Linked DNA regions of Homo sapiens. The protein of the gene in region 2 interacts with the protein of the main gene of each other region in a pairwise test. Each region holds a gene or a part of one and is shown on either strand. Other genes may lie near its edges.

Evidence for each region.
Region 1: the proteins of THRA (region 2) and CDK7 interact in a two-hybrid assay, tested with the Homo sapiens proteins (one study listed by BioGRID).

What each region holds. Positions count from the first base shown.
Region 1 is NC_000005.10:69,262,333-69,266,148, reverse strand, and holds part of CDK7 (cyclin-dependent kinase 7), read right to left. Parts: intron 1-3,816. UniProt on the Homo sapiens protein: Serine/threonine kinase involved in cell cycle control and in RNA polymerase II-mediated RNA transcription. Cyclin-dependent kinases (CDKs) are activated by the binding to a cyclin and mediate the progression through the cell cycle.
Region 2 is NC_000017.11:40,065,678-40,069,493, reverse strand, and holds part of THRA (thyroid hormone receptor alpha), read right to left. Parts: intron 1-3,816.

The DNA.
Region 1 (3,816 bases), on a different chromosome or scaffold from region 2:
AAGGCCCCAAATGCCCTATACACACCAGGTGGAGAGTGCGGCAGCGCCTGCAGAGCCCAATTAAAGGTGAACCCCAGCCTGTTACCCAGGCTGGAATGCAGTGGCACAAACGTGGCTCACTGCAGCCTTGACAACCAGGCTCAAGCAATCCTCCCACTTCAGCCTCCCAAGCAGCTGGGACTACAGGCATGCACTACCAAGTCTGGCTAATTTCTTGATTTCTTTTTTTCTTTTTTTTTTAGCTAGTGTCTTGCTCTGTCACCCAGGCTGGAGTGATGTGGCACGATATCACCTCCTTGCAGCCTCAAATTCCCAGGTTCCAGTGATCCTGCCAACTCAGCCTCCTGAGTAGCTGGGAAAACACGCACTCAATACCATGCCCGGCTAATTTTTGTATTTTTGGTAGAGACAGGGTTTCACCACATTGCCCAAGTGGGTCTCAAACTCCTGAGCTCAAGTGATCCACCCGCCTTGGCCTCCCAAAGTGCTGGGATTACAGGAGTGAGCTGCCCTGCCTGGCCTAGATGTAAATTTCTGATGTAATAAATTGTAGTTACCCTCAGAGCAAACTGAAAATATGAACAGGCAAAGAATTCTAGGTTGAGCATCATTTTCCCTCACAATGTGAACACTTCCAGATTCCAGTGCTGCTGTTGAGAAGGCTCATGCCATTCTTTTTCCCTAATACTTTATTTTCTTTTCTATGTATGCTGCTTTTCTTCTCTGTGCAAATAAAATATTTTTCTTACCCCTTCGTATTCTGAAATTTCACAACAGTGTGTCTTGGCACAGGTTTTTTTTTTTCATGCAGAGCCTTTAGAATTTTTTTTTGAAAGTTTTCTTTGTAATTTTCATAATTGTACTCATTTTTTTTTTTATTTTTTGAGACGGAGTCTCGCTCTGTCACCCAGGCTGGAGTGCAGTGGTGCGATCTTGGCTCACTGCAAGCTCTACCTCCCAGGTTCATGCCATTCTCCTGCCTCAGTCTCCCGAGTAGCTGGAACTACAGGTGCCCGCCACCACGCCTAGCTAATTTTTTTTGTATTTTCAACAGAGACGGGGTTTCACTGTGTTAGCCAGGATGGTCTCTATCTCCTCACCTCGTGATCTGCCTGCCTCAGCCTCCCAAAGTGCTGGGATTGCAGGCGTGAGCCACCGTGCCTGGCCTTTTTTTTTTTAGACGGAATTTCACATTTGTTGCCCAGGCTGGAGTGCAATGGTGTGATCTCCAGCTCACTGCAACCTCCACATCCCGGGTTCAAGCGATTCTCCTGCCTCAGCCTCCTGAGTAGCTGGGATTACAGGCATGTGCCACCAAACCCAACTAATTTTGCATTTTTAGTAGAGATAGTGTTTCTCCATATTGGCCAGGCTGGTCTCAAACTCCCAACCTTGGGTGATCCACCCACCTCGGCCTCCCAAAGTGCTGGGATTACAGGCATGAGCTACTGCGCCCGGCCTCATAATTGTACTCTTCATGGCACTTTTAGTCTGACGATTCACATCTAGCAGTGCTTCACTATTTTGAGATTTCCTACCCTCCATTTTCCTTGTTTTCTGTTGGTACATTCTAGAATCCTGGATCAATCTGTTAATTTTATCTTTTCTCTACTATAGTCCATCTATCTTTTTATTGAGACAGGGTTTCACAATGTTATCCAGGCTGGTCTTGAACTGCTGGGCTCAAGAGATTCTCCTGCCTCAGCCTCGCACGTAGCTGGGACCACAGGTATGTACCACTGTGCCTAGCCATCTCTTCATCTTTTGATTTTAGTTAATGAAAGAGTTTTGCAGCTTACTTTCCCATTCCTTTCACTGTTTTTGTTTGCTTTTGGCTATCTTCTATTTTTAATAGTTCAAGTGTCTCTTATTTTATTGTTCCCCTTTTAAAAAAGTATGGTGTGCTTATTCTATAGATGCACTATAATCTCTTAGATCTCTGAATATTTGGAAAGGGGGCTGGGGGCGGTGAATTTTCTTCTGCTTTGGTTGTTTCCATTTTTTCCAAGTTTCTTTTTAGTTTGTTTCAGTCTGCCTTTCATTTTGGAAGTATTCATTACTATCTGAAGATCCTTAATAACTATCTGGTGATCCCTGGCTAAGCATTCATATGGGCAACATTTCTACCTTTTCAATTGAGCACAAGAACAGCTTAAAATAGGACAAAAGGTATGGCAGAAGAGTACAATTCTTTAGTCTGCATGTCATTTTCCTTATAACTTTAAAGATGATTCCAGCAACAATGCCAATGGCTAATAAATTTCCAAGTATGATTGTTAACAGGTCCACAATCTCTAACCTGTCTACTCTCAACTGCTGTCTCTCTTCATTTGCTTTCTCAATGGAGTGATCAGTCATAACATTAGGGGCTATGGAATTCTGTTTTCTTCTTGGCCATGAATGGATTGTGGTGGTTGATAAATTCTCAGTGTGAATTTCTGGTATACTCTATGTTCAGGTAAGTAGCAGTTATCATGCCAGCTGATTCACAGGACCCCCTGTTAGCACTGTGATTCCCATATTACCTTCCAAGTTTGAATGTGTGGGTTTCTTCTACAAATGCCCATTGGGTAAGTTTCTCAAAATGATGCACAGAATTTACTTTTTTTTATTTTAAGAGATTGGGGTCTTGCTATATTGTCCAGGCTTGCCTCAAACTCCTGAGTACAAGTGATCCTCCCACCTCAGCTTCCCAAGTAGCTGGGACTATAGGCGTGAGCCACCACTATGCTTAAACTAAACATTTTTAGTTTAGTGTTTTTCTCTTTGGTGTACAAAAGTTGTTTTCTGTGTTCAAGGAGATAAAAAAGCTATTCAATCTTGGTTTGAATTTCTTTAAATACATATGGCTTAAGGAGAGGGAGAGCAGGGGTCAGAATATGGAGAGAAAAAAACTAGCTTCAGAAGGATTCCCCTGTATCCCTTTACCTTCATCATTCGTAAGGGCTAGTCTTTCTGGAGATCTAAACTTCATAGCTAAAGAGAAGTTTCCAAGTCAGCATCTTTCTCTCTGGTGAGGGGAAGCAGGGGATTTTTTTTACTGTAAGATGATGGTCTCAGTCACAGAAATGCTATAGTAACATTGTATCTGTTCTGTTTCAACAGAACTAAAATAATGGTCTCACACAAGGCTTAAGTTATACAGAGTAGTAGCTGCAGTGGTTGGTATTATACATTTCCTAAAGCGCACTTAAAACAGACCCAAACAAAAAAACCCTCAGGAGGACAAAAGTTTATCTGAACATATTTAGTTGTTATAGAGATACTGCCATATTACAAGTGAATTTCTATGTTCTGAAGTATAAAACTTCTACAGTAAAGTTCTTATTGTCCTAAATGGAAGATATTCTCATTTCATATTAACATTAAAAAATGCTACATTTGGCTTTTTAAAAATTGGACTATTTGTAGGCTTTTTGTTGTAAAGACATTGGCAGGACAAGAATTCTTTTCTTTTTCTTTTTCTTTTTTTTTTTTTTTGAGATGGAGCCTTGCTCTGTTGCCCAGGCTGGAGTGCAGTGGCACAATCTTGGCTCATTGCAACCTCTGCCTCCCAGGTTCAAGCGATTCTCCTGTCTCAGCCTCCCGAGTAGCTGGGACTACAGGCACCCGCCACCATGCCCAGCTAATTTTTCTATTTTTAGTAGAGATGGGGTTTCACCATGTTGGCCAGGCTGGCTTCGAACTCCTGACCTCAAGTGATCCACCTGCCTCGGCCTCCCAAAGTGCTGGGATTACAGGCGTGAGCCACCATGCCTGGCCTAGGACAAGAATTCTTATACAAACTGTCAGAACAAATAACTGCAACAACAATAT
Region 2 (3,816 bases):
CAAGGCTTGGGGTCCTCCCTCCTCACTCCCTCATCTAAGGCAGTAGAAGAAGTTGCCTGCAAGCCCTGAAGAGCATGGCCTAGGAGGGGAGGGAATGGTGGAGGGGGAAAGAAAGGGAGGGATGTTCTCCCAGGCACCCCAGAGGCTGGAGCTAGCCCCTAACCAAGCAGAACTGGCAGAGGCAGAGAGAGAGAGACAGAGACAGAGACAGAGAGACAGGGACAGAAAGGGAGGAGGGAGGGAATAGGAAGGAGGGAGGAAGGGGGAGGGAAGAGAGAAAGATTGAGAGTGTGTGTGTGAGAGAGAGAGAGGGAGGGAGAGAAGGAGGGAGAGACAGAGAGGGGGAGGGGGAGAGAGAGAGGGAGAGGGAAGAGGAAGGGAGGGAGGGAGAGAGAGAGGGAGGGAGAGAGGGAGGGAGAGAGCGCGCGCGTGAATGCAGCTGAGTCTCCGGCACACACACGGACACGTGCAGACACACACACTCACCCCGCATGCGCAGAGCCACAGGGCTCTGGGTACCGTTCCAGGAGATATTCAGAGCCCTCCCCAGCCCACACATGCACAAAAACACTCTCACATGGATGCGTGCACAACACACCCACTCACTGATGTGTACAAAAATGCCGAAAGACACCAAAGCCTCGGTTCCCCTGTTTCCCCACCCCCATGCCTGGTAAAAGAGAAAAAGAAACAGGCAGCTGGGGCTCTGGGAGCCAAGAGCCGATCTCTTCTTTAGAAGAGGAAAAGAGGAGGAGGAGGAGGTGGGCCAGGGGCTTGGTCCAATCATTCTGCTCTTGGCCACTGCTGAGGGGCATGGCTGAGGCTTTGGTATCAACCTTTAATGCCCACCCCCAAAACAGCGAAGCAAGGATAGTATTTCCTGGGCACCAGTAACACCCATCTTGCTTCCCTTGTCTACCCAGCAAACTTCTGACCCTCCCTCTGGACCACCTCACGCAATGGCATACCGGAGGGAGGTCCCTATGACCCCAGCTTTGGCCTGCCAAGTGACACCAAGGTGGAACCACATGTGCCCCCACCACACACCAGCCCCAGATACTTCAGTGAGAGACTGAGAACTGTCTCTGGTTCCAGGCAGCATGTGTATGCCCCACCCTGGCATGTGCCAGGCCCTGGGAAAAAAGGAGAATCCACAGGCATTGCTCACCATGCCAGGATGCAACATGGATTGAACACAGGGGTCATCCCACCTTGTGTTATTTGCCCTCAACCTGAGTGAGACAGGAACCATTGTCTCTAGATAATGAAAACCCAGGCCCAAAGTCATACGACTAGTGAATGTCAACAGCCAGGCCTCCCAACTCCCAGCCAGTGATCTTCCCACCACGGTCATGCTTGCCTCCCTCCCCAAGAGACACAACAGTTCTCCAAAGTCCCCTAGACACCTTTGCAGCCATGAGAACTAGAGTTGGGTTTTTTGTTTTGTTTTCTGTCTGTTTTGAGAGGATGTGTGTGTGGGGGGTCTCACTCTGTTGTTCAGGCTAGAGTGCAGTGGCACAATCACAGCTCACCGCAGCCTCGACCTTCCAGGCTTAAGCGATCCTCCGGCCTCAGCCTCCCAAGTAGCTGGTAACACAGGCATGCGCCACCACACCTGGCTAACTTTTTAAAGTTGTTTTTAGAGATGGGGTCTCACTATGTTGACCAGGCTGATCATGAACTACTGGCCTCAAGTGATCCTCCCGCCTTGGCCTCCCAAAATATTGAGATTACAGGCATGAGCCACTGTGCCCAGCCGAGAACTAGAGTTGAGATTGGTTCCCACTCCAAAGGCTTCCCGTCACCCCTACAGGGTATCCTCCCATTGTCCTTCCTTCACCTTGAGGGGCAGGGCTAAATAAAAGGGGTTTGGAGAGGGGATCCTGATCACCAGACTCACAAAGGCAAAGAGGCAACCCAGGACAGATGCTGGATCTCAAAGTGCTGTGCCCACCACACTGGTCATTACTCAGTGCTTCAGTTTCTCTCTGCCACCACCTTTCACACTAAGTACCACTCCATGGAGGGCAGGGGAATCTGGTGCCTATCAGCCAGAGCTGGGTCCTGGTTGACCAATGCTGGGCTCCCAGGAGGGAGGAAGGGCACTGCCTCCTCTTTGAGCCCACACATAAGAGAGGGGACGGCTTTCCTTGTTCTCTCTCTCCCACCCCCAGAGCTCAGACCCTGAACAGAGATGCAGTGATGCCCAAAGATTTATGCAGGTGCCCCTAGCTGGTGGGGTGTGTCCCAGGCTGAGGGGCCAAGGGCTCCTTGTAAGCTGAAGGGCGAGGGTCAAAGGAGGGTGGGGCAGAGGGGCCTGCCTTGGGCTCTTTCCCATACACTCATTCCAGGCTGCAAAAATTTGTCTGGGAGGAAAAGATTACATGACGGTGAGAAGGCTGGAAATTGGAGACCCACTGCCCCAGGCCCCAGTCTCACTGATGTCTAGGAGACCCAATTCTCCACGAAGCTTCTCTAAGAAATCTGGGAGACCCCAGGCCCACAGCTTCCTTCACCCATCACAACCGCTCACATATACAGTTTGTTATGAACTAGGCACTTTTAAAAACATTTTTCCTCAAAAAAGCTAAATGAGGTAGATATGATCATCCCCAATTTACAGATGAGGCAACGGGGAAGTTAAATCGCTTGCTCAAAGTCACACATCCAGCAAGTGACAGAGCTGGGATTCAGACCTAGGCAGTCCAGGTCAATCATGGCCGTCATGATCATCACCATCATCTCTGTTCTTAGCTGTGATGGTATATCACCTGCTTGATAGATAATGCCTTGTTCTTTTTTGTTTTTCTTTTTTTTTTTTTTTTTTTTTGAGACGGAGTCTCGCTCTGTCACCCAGTCTGTAGTGCAGTGGTACAATCTCAGCTCACTGCAACCTCCACCTCCTGGGTTCAAGCGATTCTCCTGCCTCAGCCTCCTGAGTAGCTGGGATTACAGGACCCCGCCACCACACCCAGCTAAGTTTTGTATTTTTAGTAGAGATGGGGTTTCACCATCTTGGTCAGACTGGTCTTGAACTCCTGACCTCAGGTGATCTGCCTGCCTCCGCCTCCCAGTGTGCTAGGATTACGGGTGTGAGCCACTGTGCCCGGCCCAATGCCTTGTTCTTTCATCCAGCTATGTGTTCCCTGAGACCAAGCCTCAGTCTTTCCCCTCTGTAGCTGCCCTGTGGGTTCTCTGCCAAGTGCCTCCACCTCCAAATAGTCCAAGGCTAGAGGGGAGCATAGCGAGAAGTGCTTGGTGCCCCCGGGCTCGATGTCTCCTGCCTGAGTTCCCCCTCCTCAAATTCCCTCTCCAGAAGAGGTACCCCTTCTAGGCTGGAACCTGCACTCACGGGTGGGAGGGCCTCGCTTAGTACATACTTAGTCTAGGCAGCTGTGCCCTCAGAACCAGGCCCTGAGGCTGGGCAAAAAGGACACAGCTGTTGGGCATCTCTGAGGTGGGCCTCAGCTGCCAGGGGTGTGGAGAAAGGCCATTGTGAGCCCTGCAGTGGACCCAACTCAGCAGGGTCCTGCCAGCTCCCGCCACTGCCCATGGGGGCGGTTCTTTTCCAGCTTGGGCCAGTGTGGGGGGAGCCTCTTCATGGCTTGTTTAAGAGCTGCTAGCTGGCTGCAGCCTGCACCCTGAGGGTGCCCACAGAACTGGTGTCTCCAGACATGCAGGCCCGAGGGGTCAGCATGGGCAGTGGCTGACCCCCCCCCCCTTCCCCCATTCCCAGCCCCTAAAACTTGCTGGCCACAGCTGCGGCACTAAGGAAGTGCAGGAAGTCCTGAGCAGCCAGCTGAGCCCCCCGCCCCC